2 linked regions of the Homo sapiens genome follow. The protein of the gene in region 1 purifies or fractionates together with the protein of each later gene. This does not show direct contact. Each region holds a gene or a part of one and is shown in the gene's direction. Other genes may lie near its edges.

Region 1 (3,752 bases):
TGCTAGAGAAAAGTAATATACAGAGTGGCATCATGGTTTTTAGCCTGCAAAACTAGAAGGTTGGAAACACGTTAGATGAAGAGTGGCAAGAGCAAGAGTGGATTACACAGACAGGTGGCATGACAGCCTGGAGGCCCCTGTTGCTGTGCTAAGTTAGAGAAGATTGCTAGTGGAAATCCAAAGTAGGCTATTGAGTGTATGCGTTGGGATTGATGGAGAGGTCTGAGCTGGAGATGTAAATTAGGAGTCATCAGTTTGTAGATAATGTGGGGTGTGGGAGACTACAGAGGATCACCAAGGAAGCAGGTCCTGCGCACCTTGAGGCCAGAGCAGGGAGCTAGAAGCAGCAGAGGAGATGGAACCAGGAGAGTGGTGTCTGTGGAGGTGGCGGTAGGGAGGAGTAGCTGTATGATGCCGTTGGATTTAGCCATCTGGAGGTCAGTGATGACCTTGACACAGTTTTGTTGGAATGGGGGTGCGAGGCAGGTTAGAGAATTAGAGTGCATTCAAGACAGACAGGAAAGGATTGTAGATGAAAAATAGTTTTCTGATGAGTTGTAAAAGTGTGCAGAGGAGCAGGGTGGTGGCTGGAGGGGCAGGATTTAGGGCTGAAAAACGTGTTTAGGTGGGAGAAATAACAGCATGTATGCTGACGAGAGCTGTTCAGCTTTAAAGATGGAAGAATTAATGATGTAAGGGAGTGAGAGGAGAACTGGAGGGCTGCGCAGCAGTGGAATCCCATGCAGGGGCTTGTGTTTGCTGGAAAAGTGGAGAGCGTGTGGGTCTCATTGTAGGCAGGGGGTGGATATGATGGTGGCACCTGTGCAAGCTGTCACCTGAGTTCATAGTTGAGTGAGGATGGAGGACGGAGGTTGGAGATAAGAGGAGAGTGGAGAAAGCATGAAATCTTTCTATAAGAAAGTAAGGCGAGAAGGCACTGTGGAAACCCGGAGGGTTGTTGGGCAGTTTTAAAGGTCCCCTTGAGGTTAGTGGTCATGACTTTAAGGGGAGTTCATCAGCATGGCTGTTAGTGGCTTCTGTAAGCAATATTAAATCTGAGAGGTGGCACTTATTTGCTAGTAAACTCCTGTATTGTCCCTTGGCTGCATGTCTGGGTAATGGAAAAGGGCTTCCGAAAAAAATCACAGTGAAGAGGTCAATTTAGTTTATATCAAACAGAATTCTAAAGAGAGGTGAGCTGATTTCTTACGCCCTGGCTGTGCCGATTGTGGTTGATCTGTAGTTTGCACTCCCTTGGTGTACTTTATGGTTTTGAATCTTTAAAGTGTATATTCTTGATTTCCAGCCACCACACGTATAAAATATCTTTAAGTTGCTTTTGTTTCTGTGGCAGAATAAAAGTGTTTAGTGGCAGAACATAAGAGCACCGATTAACTGTCCTTGTTTCTTGTTAGGAGGAAGGAACCTAGGAAGCAAGCAGGAAGTCTGGCCTCGCTCTCGGATGCACCCCCCTTAAAAAGTGGACTCAGCTCCCTGGCGGGAGCCCCTTCTTTAAAAGACTCTGAGAGTAAGTGCCCAAAGATGTGGACTTCAATACTCGGGATATTTTTTCTCTAATTAAATACTATGTGATTATTGTTGATTTTTTTTCCCAGGAAAATCACTAAAATAACCTATCATTTTATCACTCAGAGATATTTCCTGTTAATATTTTGTTGTGTTTTGTTACTTCTAAGGTGGTCCTATTTTATATGTTGTTTTGTATTCTGGCCCTTCCTATACCTATATACCATCGGAATACTTTTGGGAAGTTGACTTTTTAGCTGATTTTTATTATCTATAGAAATAAAATTTTTAAATCATCTCTCCTTTTTTGGACATTTACAATGACTTGAGTTGGATTTGCTTTCAATTAATTTTTAAAAATTTGGTGATACCACAGTAAGTATCATAAAATGTTAAATAAAAAATTATTCTGCAGATCATTTTCAAGAACAGTGACCTGACATGTCATCGTAAATGCAGCAGAGCTAAAGAGCACTGGTTACACATGGAATAGTCTAGCTCTGGCACCAGTTACTTTCCCACCTCTCCCCACACACAGTGATAGGAATTTAAAAAGCATAGCCCTGAACATGTAGGATGGGCAGAGGTCCTTTGGAAACCGTATCATAGTAAATGTTGTATTTAATTAGCGTAGTGTTTCAGAGCACGTGTACCTCTTTTGAGAAAGTTTCCTAAAGTAGATTCACTAAGAATTTGCAGTATGCGTTTTGCATAATTGTCCAGTATTTCCGAATCTTTTTGTATTGCTTGATATACTGTGGGACTTCCTAGGGCACATAAGAGAGCCGGCCTGTTGCTTCTCTTAAACCAGCCATGTATTTATAATGTCCGCATCCCTTCCCATTTGCTTCTTTCCCGTGGTTACTGCCACCTTTAAGAAAGGAATCCAGGACATCATGAACATGTCATTCTGACATTGATTAGAGAATGATCATTTAGAGAGGACGTTGAGAACAAAGGACTAAAAAACCAGTGAGGATGTCACTTTAGTAAGTGAAATAGCAGTTGCACTGAAGAAAAATTTAGAAATTCAAAGGAAAAATAAGACTCATGAAAATAATTAACAGTCTATGAATTCATACCTAACAGGGCTGTTTATGGAAAGTGATGTCTTATAATGAGGCAAAAAATGGTTTTTGGTGGTTGTGTTCCAATAAAGTAGTATTGTTTATGGTTTAAAAAGGGATGTAGCTGGGTGCAGTGGCTCACGCCTGTAATACCAGCACTTTGGGAGGCCGAGGTGGGTGGATCACGAGGTCAGGAGTTCGAGACCAGCCTATCCAACATAGGGAAACCCTGTCTCTACTAAAAATACAAAAATTAGCTGGGTGTGGTAGCACATGCCTGTAGTCCCAGCTACTCGGGAGGCTGAGGCGGGAGAATCGCTTGAACCCAGAAGGCAGAGGTTGCAGTGAGCTGAGACCGCGCCATTGCACTCCAGCCTGAGTGACAGTGATGAGACTCCGTCTCAAAAAAAGGGTTGTGATGCATAGCTTAAGCGTTCATTAATCACAGTTTATTTTTTCCTTAGTTTTAGGTTATTATGCTCCTGTCATAAAGAAGCCCCATATTGAACAACGACAAAAATTGATGTGGTTTAGAGACTGTTATATTCTAAGTCACTCTAATGTTAATATTTTCTCCTGTTCACAGGTAAAAGGGGAAATACAGTTTTGAAAGATCTGAAATTGATCAGTGATAAAATTGGATCACTTGGATTAGGTAATTAGATTTCTAGTTTTTGTGCTGATCGTTTTAAAGTGATTATTTTTAGGGTAAGGCTGTAAAAGAAGTGACTCCGTCTGCCTACGCTGAGCACCTTCCTGCTGCTGCTCATTCAGCAGGTGTTTGAATGGCTTTTATGTGTTCAGGATTACACGCTATGCGAGAGATGGCTACAGCAACAGCCATCATGTTCTCGTGAACCTCTGTCTTCATGGAGTTTAAATTCTGGTCAGGAATATGAACATTAAACGGGCATCTACAGATATTTTGACTGTAAAAGGGTCAGTATATATGGGTATAGAAATGGCTAGTAGGTTACCTTTGTCCAGTCTTGGCATTCAGGGAAGACTTCTTATAAGAAGTGACTTCTGTGCAGAAGCTTCATGGTTAAGTACATGTATAAGAGAGAAGGGAAGATATTTCAGTTCAGACTGAGAAAAATTTGGGCAGAGGCAGAGCCATTTGCTAGATGCTGGTAGTACATGGTCCAGGCCTCAGAG
Region 2 (3,752 bases), on another chromosome or scaffold:
AAAAGTCATTTGATCCCACATCCCTCTCCAGCTTCTGTTGCATTTCTCTGCACTCTTCATAGGAAAACTTCTCAAAGAAGTTACCTGTACTTGGCTGGGCGCAGTGGCTCATGCCTGTAATCCCAGCACTTTGGGAGGCTGAAGTGGGTGGATCACCTGAGGTCAGGAGACAGACCAGCCTGGCCAACGTGGTGAAACGCTCTCTCTACTAAAAATACAAAATTTAGCCGGGCATTGTGGCAAGTGTCTGTAATCCCAGCTACTCAGGAGGCTGAGGCAGGAGAATCACTTCAACCCAGGAGGTGAAGTTTGCAGTGAGCCAAGATCGCGCCACTGCCCTCCAGCCTGGGTGACAGTGAGACTCAGTCTCGGAAAAAAAAAAAAAAAAAAGGAAGGTACCTGTACTTGTACTTTGTGTGCTTTCTTGACCCCTTAACTCTTAAACCCACTGCATTCTTTTAGCAGATATTTATTGCATGCCTGTTTTGTGCCAAGTACCGTTGTAGCTTATAGCAGAACACAAAAAAATCTCTGTCTTTGTAGAACTTACACTTTAGTGTGGAGAGAAATAATAAAATAATAAGTAAATTATATAGGTTGTACAGCACCTGCGTAAGTCTGGTTCCTTCATCAGTGTACTAGATCCTATCCTTTGTAGTAGATTCCATTTTTGCCTGCTGAAGGATGTACTCTTGCAGTTGTCCCTTCTCCTGTATCATCAGTTTTTCTTTAATCATTCCCATCAGCATATAAACATGCTGGTATTTCTCCCATCTTAAACTTTCTTGACTTAATTTCCACCTCTAGCCATTCCTCATTTTTCTGTTCCCCTTATAGCAATATTTGTTAAAACAGTTGTTGGTTAAATCTGTACTCGTCTCGAATTCCTGCTTGTCAAGAATCATCAGTGACTGCTATATTGTTAACTTCAGTGGTCAGTTGTCAGTCTTGACTTTGCTTGAAAAATTTTGCAGTTTTCTACAACAGCACTGAGCCATAGTAAAGAAATTAACTTATAGGTTTGGTCTAAGGTTAAAAATTAACATAATAGGCCAGGCATGGTGGCTCATGCCTGTAATCCCAGCACTTTGGGAGGCCGAGGTGGGCAGATCACCTGAGGTCAGGAGTTCAAGACCAGCCTGACCAACATGGAGAAGCCCCATCTCTACTAAAAATACAAAATTAGCCAGGCGTGGTGGCACATGCCCGTAATCCCAGCCACTCAGGAGGCTGAGGCAGGAGAATCCCTTGAACCTGGGAGGCGGAGGTTGCCGTGACCCGAGATCGTACCATTGCGCCCCAGCCTGGGCAACAAGAGTGAAGCTCCATCTCCAAAAAAAAAAAAATTAACAGATGCAGCAGAAATGCAGTCATAAAAGGAATTCAAGGAAACAATTACAGGCTTGTTGGGAAGGAAATGAGACCAGAAAGAGTAAAATAACTTTTGAGAAAATAGATCACAGAATTCAAGAGCTCAGTGAGGCTGAAGTGGAAATGGTATGGCAGTGAGGTTTTGAATTACCAGAAAGGATGATCTGAGAGTATATTTGAGCTTAAGATTTCAGAAAGGGATCAAGTAAAATCTGTGATCTTGTCATAGAACCAAATGGCAGAATGAACTAGAGGTGAAAGTCTTTGGAGTTGCAGGACCCATGGTCACCCACATAAATGTTTATTCATCCTAAATGATTGCAGGACCTTGTGAAGAACACTGTGTACCAGTCACCATAGTCCACAAATAAGTGGGGAGGAATTGGCTGAATGAGACAGCCACGTGCCAATAGCAGGCGAGTTGCAGGGTAATAGAGCCCTGAGTTTTGAGCTTCAGACAGAGGATGAGTTTTTTTGTTTGTTTTCTCTACATTAGGTAGAGAAACAGTGATTATGAGGCTGAAACTCCATGAGGTCAGGGGCTGGGGCTGTCTTGCTCACCCCTCATTCCGTGTCTACTACAGCGTTCTCTGTACATAGTAGGTGCTCAGTAAATTCTTTTCATTGAATGAATTAGGAGCACTCTACAGAGTTCTGTAGGAGAGGTAATTTGAGGAAGAGACTAGCTTTAGCGATAAACAGAAGTAGAGGGAGCATGAGAAATGGTTGAAGATGTAGAGGAGGCTGCTTCAGTAGAGGGTAGTGATTCTTGGTATTTCAGAAAAGTTAATATGCTCAGTGTCTAAGCACAATTGTGAAGGCCTTTTTGGCACTGCAACTATTTTAATTAAACTATTAATATAATATATAGGATGACCTGAGTAAAAGTACTGCTTGATTTTAAAAGTGCTCCCCTTAATCTGTTTTGTTACCAGAAAAAAAAAGTGAACAAGAATTAAAAGATGAAGAAATGGATTTATTTACAAAATATTACTCCGAATGGAAAGGAGGTAGAAAAAACACAAATGAATTCTATAAGACCATTCCCCGGTTTTATTATAGGGTAAGTAGTGTCTAATCAAATGTCCTGCAGAGTTTAAAAATGAAATATAATTTTTGGCAAGGCAGGGTGGCTCATACCTGTAATCCCAACACTTTGGGAGGCTGAGGCGGGAGGATCACTTGAGTCCAGGAATTTGAGACCAGCCAGGGCAACATAGCAAGATCCCATCTCTAAAAGAAATTTTTTAAAAAATAGCTGGACATGGTGATGCATGCCTGTAGTCCTAGCTTCTCAGGAGGCTGAAGCAGGAGGATTACTTGAGCCCAGGAGATCGAGGCAGCAGTGAGCCGTGATTGTGTCACTGCACTCCAGCCTGGGTAACAGAGTTAGACCCTGTCCTCCCCACCCCCAGAAAAAAAAGTAGTTTTAAAAATAGGACCAGAATTTTATGTTTTAAAAATAGAGAATTATATTTTAAATTTTATATATTATTTTATTGTAATTGATCTTATCACTATTATAAAACATTTTGAGCCCAATAAAATCCCAAGTTTAGATTTAAGTGGGTATGTAAACACAAAGTTGTTAAACTGTGGGCTTTTTCTTTCTGATTTTTATTATAGATATTAGTAGTAAGTATTCTATTGGATTATGTTATCAGGTATACACTTTGTTATAAAGTTTTAAAATTTTGCTCAAGGCTAAACCGAAAAATAGATTATGGAAAACCTAAAGAATTTCACTTGAGGCCAGGCATGGTGGCTCATGCCTGTAATCCCAACACTTTGGGAGGCCAAGGTGGGTGGTGGATCATGAGGTCAGGAGTTCGAGACCAGCCTGACCAACATGGTGAAACCCTGTCTCTACTCAAAATACAAAAATTAGCCAGGCGTGGTGGCGCGCGCCGGTAATCCTAGCTACTCAGGAGGCTGAGGCAGGAGAATCACTTGAACCCAGGAGGTGGAGGTTGTAGTGAGCCCAGATCGCGCCACTGCACTCCAGCCTGGGTGACAGAGCAAGGCTCTGTCTCAAACAAACAAACAAAAAAGGAATTTCACTTGATTATTTTTTCCTTGTGCCAAAACTCTGAAAATGGCTATGAAGGGACGTATAGACAAAATAGACCTTAAGAAAAGCTATTCATGGTAGGGTCACTGCACTCCAGCCTGGGTGATAGAGCAAAGACCCTGTCTCAAAAAAAAAATGTTGGCCAGGTGTGGTGACTCACACCTATAATCCTGTCACTTTGGGAGGCCATCAAATCAGGAGGATCACTTGAGGCCAGGAGTTTGAGAACCAGTCTGGGCAACTTGGTGAGATCGTGTCTCTCCAAAAAAAACTTAGCCGGGCATGGTGGTGCGCACCTGTAGTCCCCGCT

The links. The genes of interacting proteins can lie anywhere in the genome.
Region 2: the proteins of CEP43 (region 1) and PPP2R3C purify together in Homo sapiens (affinity purification with mass spectrometry; 5 studies listed by BioGRID and IntAct, with this or other methods). This does not show direct contact.

What each region holds. Positions count from the first base shown.
Region 1 is NC_000006.12:167,023,367-167,027,118, forward strand, and holds part of CEP43 (centrosomal protein 43), read left to right. Parts: intron 1-1,415; coding exon 1,416-1,528; intron 1,529-3,180; coding exon 3,181-3,249; intron 3,250-3,752. UniProt on the Homo sapiens protein: Required for anchoring microtubules to the centrosomes. Required for ciliation.
Region 2 is NC_000014.9:35,115,292-35,119,043, reverse strand, and holds part of PPP2R3C (serine/threonine-protein phosphatase 2A regulatory subunit B'' subunit gamma), read left to right. Parts: intron 1-2,306; coding exon 2,307-2,434; intron 2,435-3,752. UniProt on the Homo sapiens protein: May regulate MCM3AP phosphorylation through phosphatase recruitment. May act as a negative regulator of ABCB1 expression and function through the dephosphorylation of ABCB1 by TFPI2/PPP2R3C complex.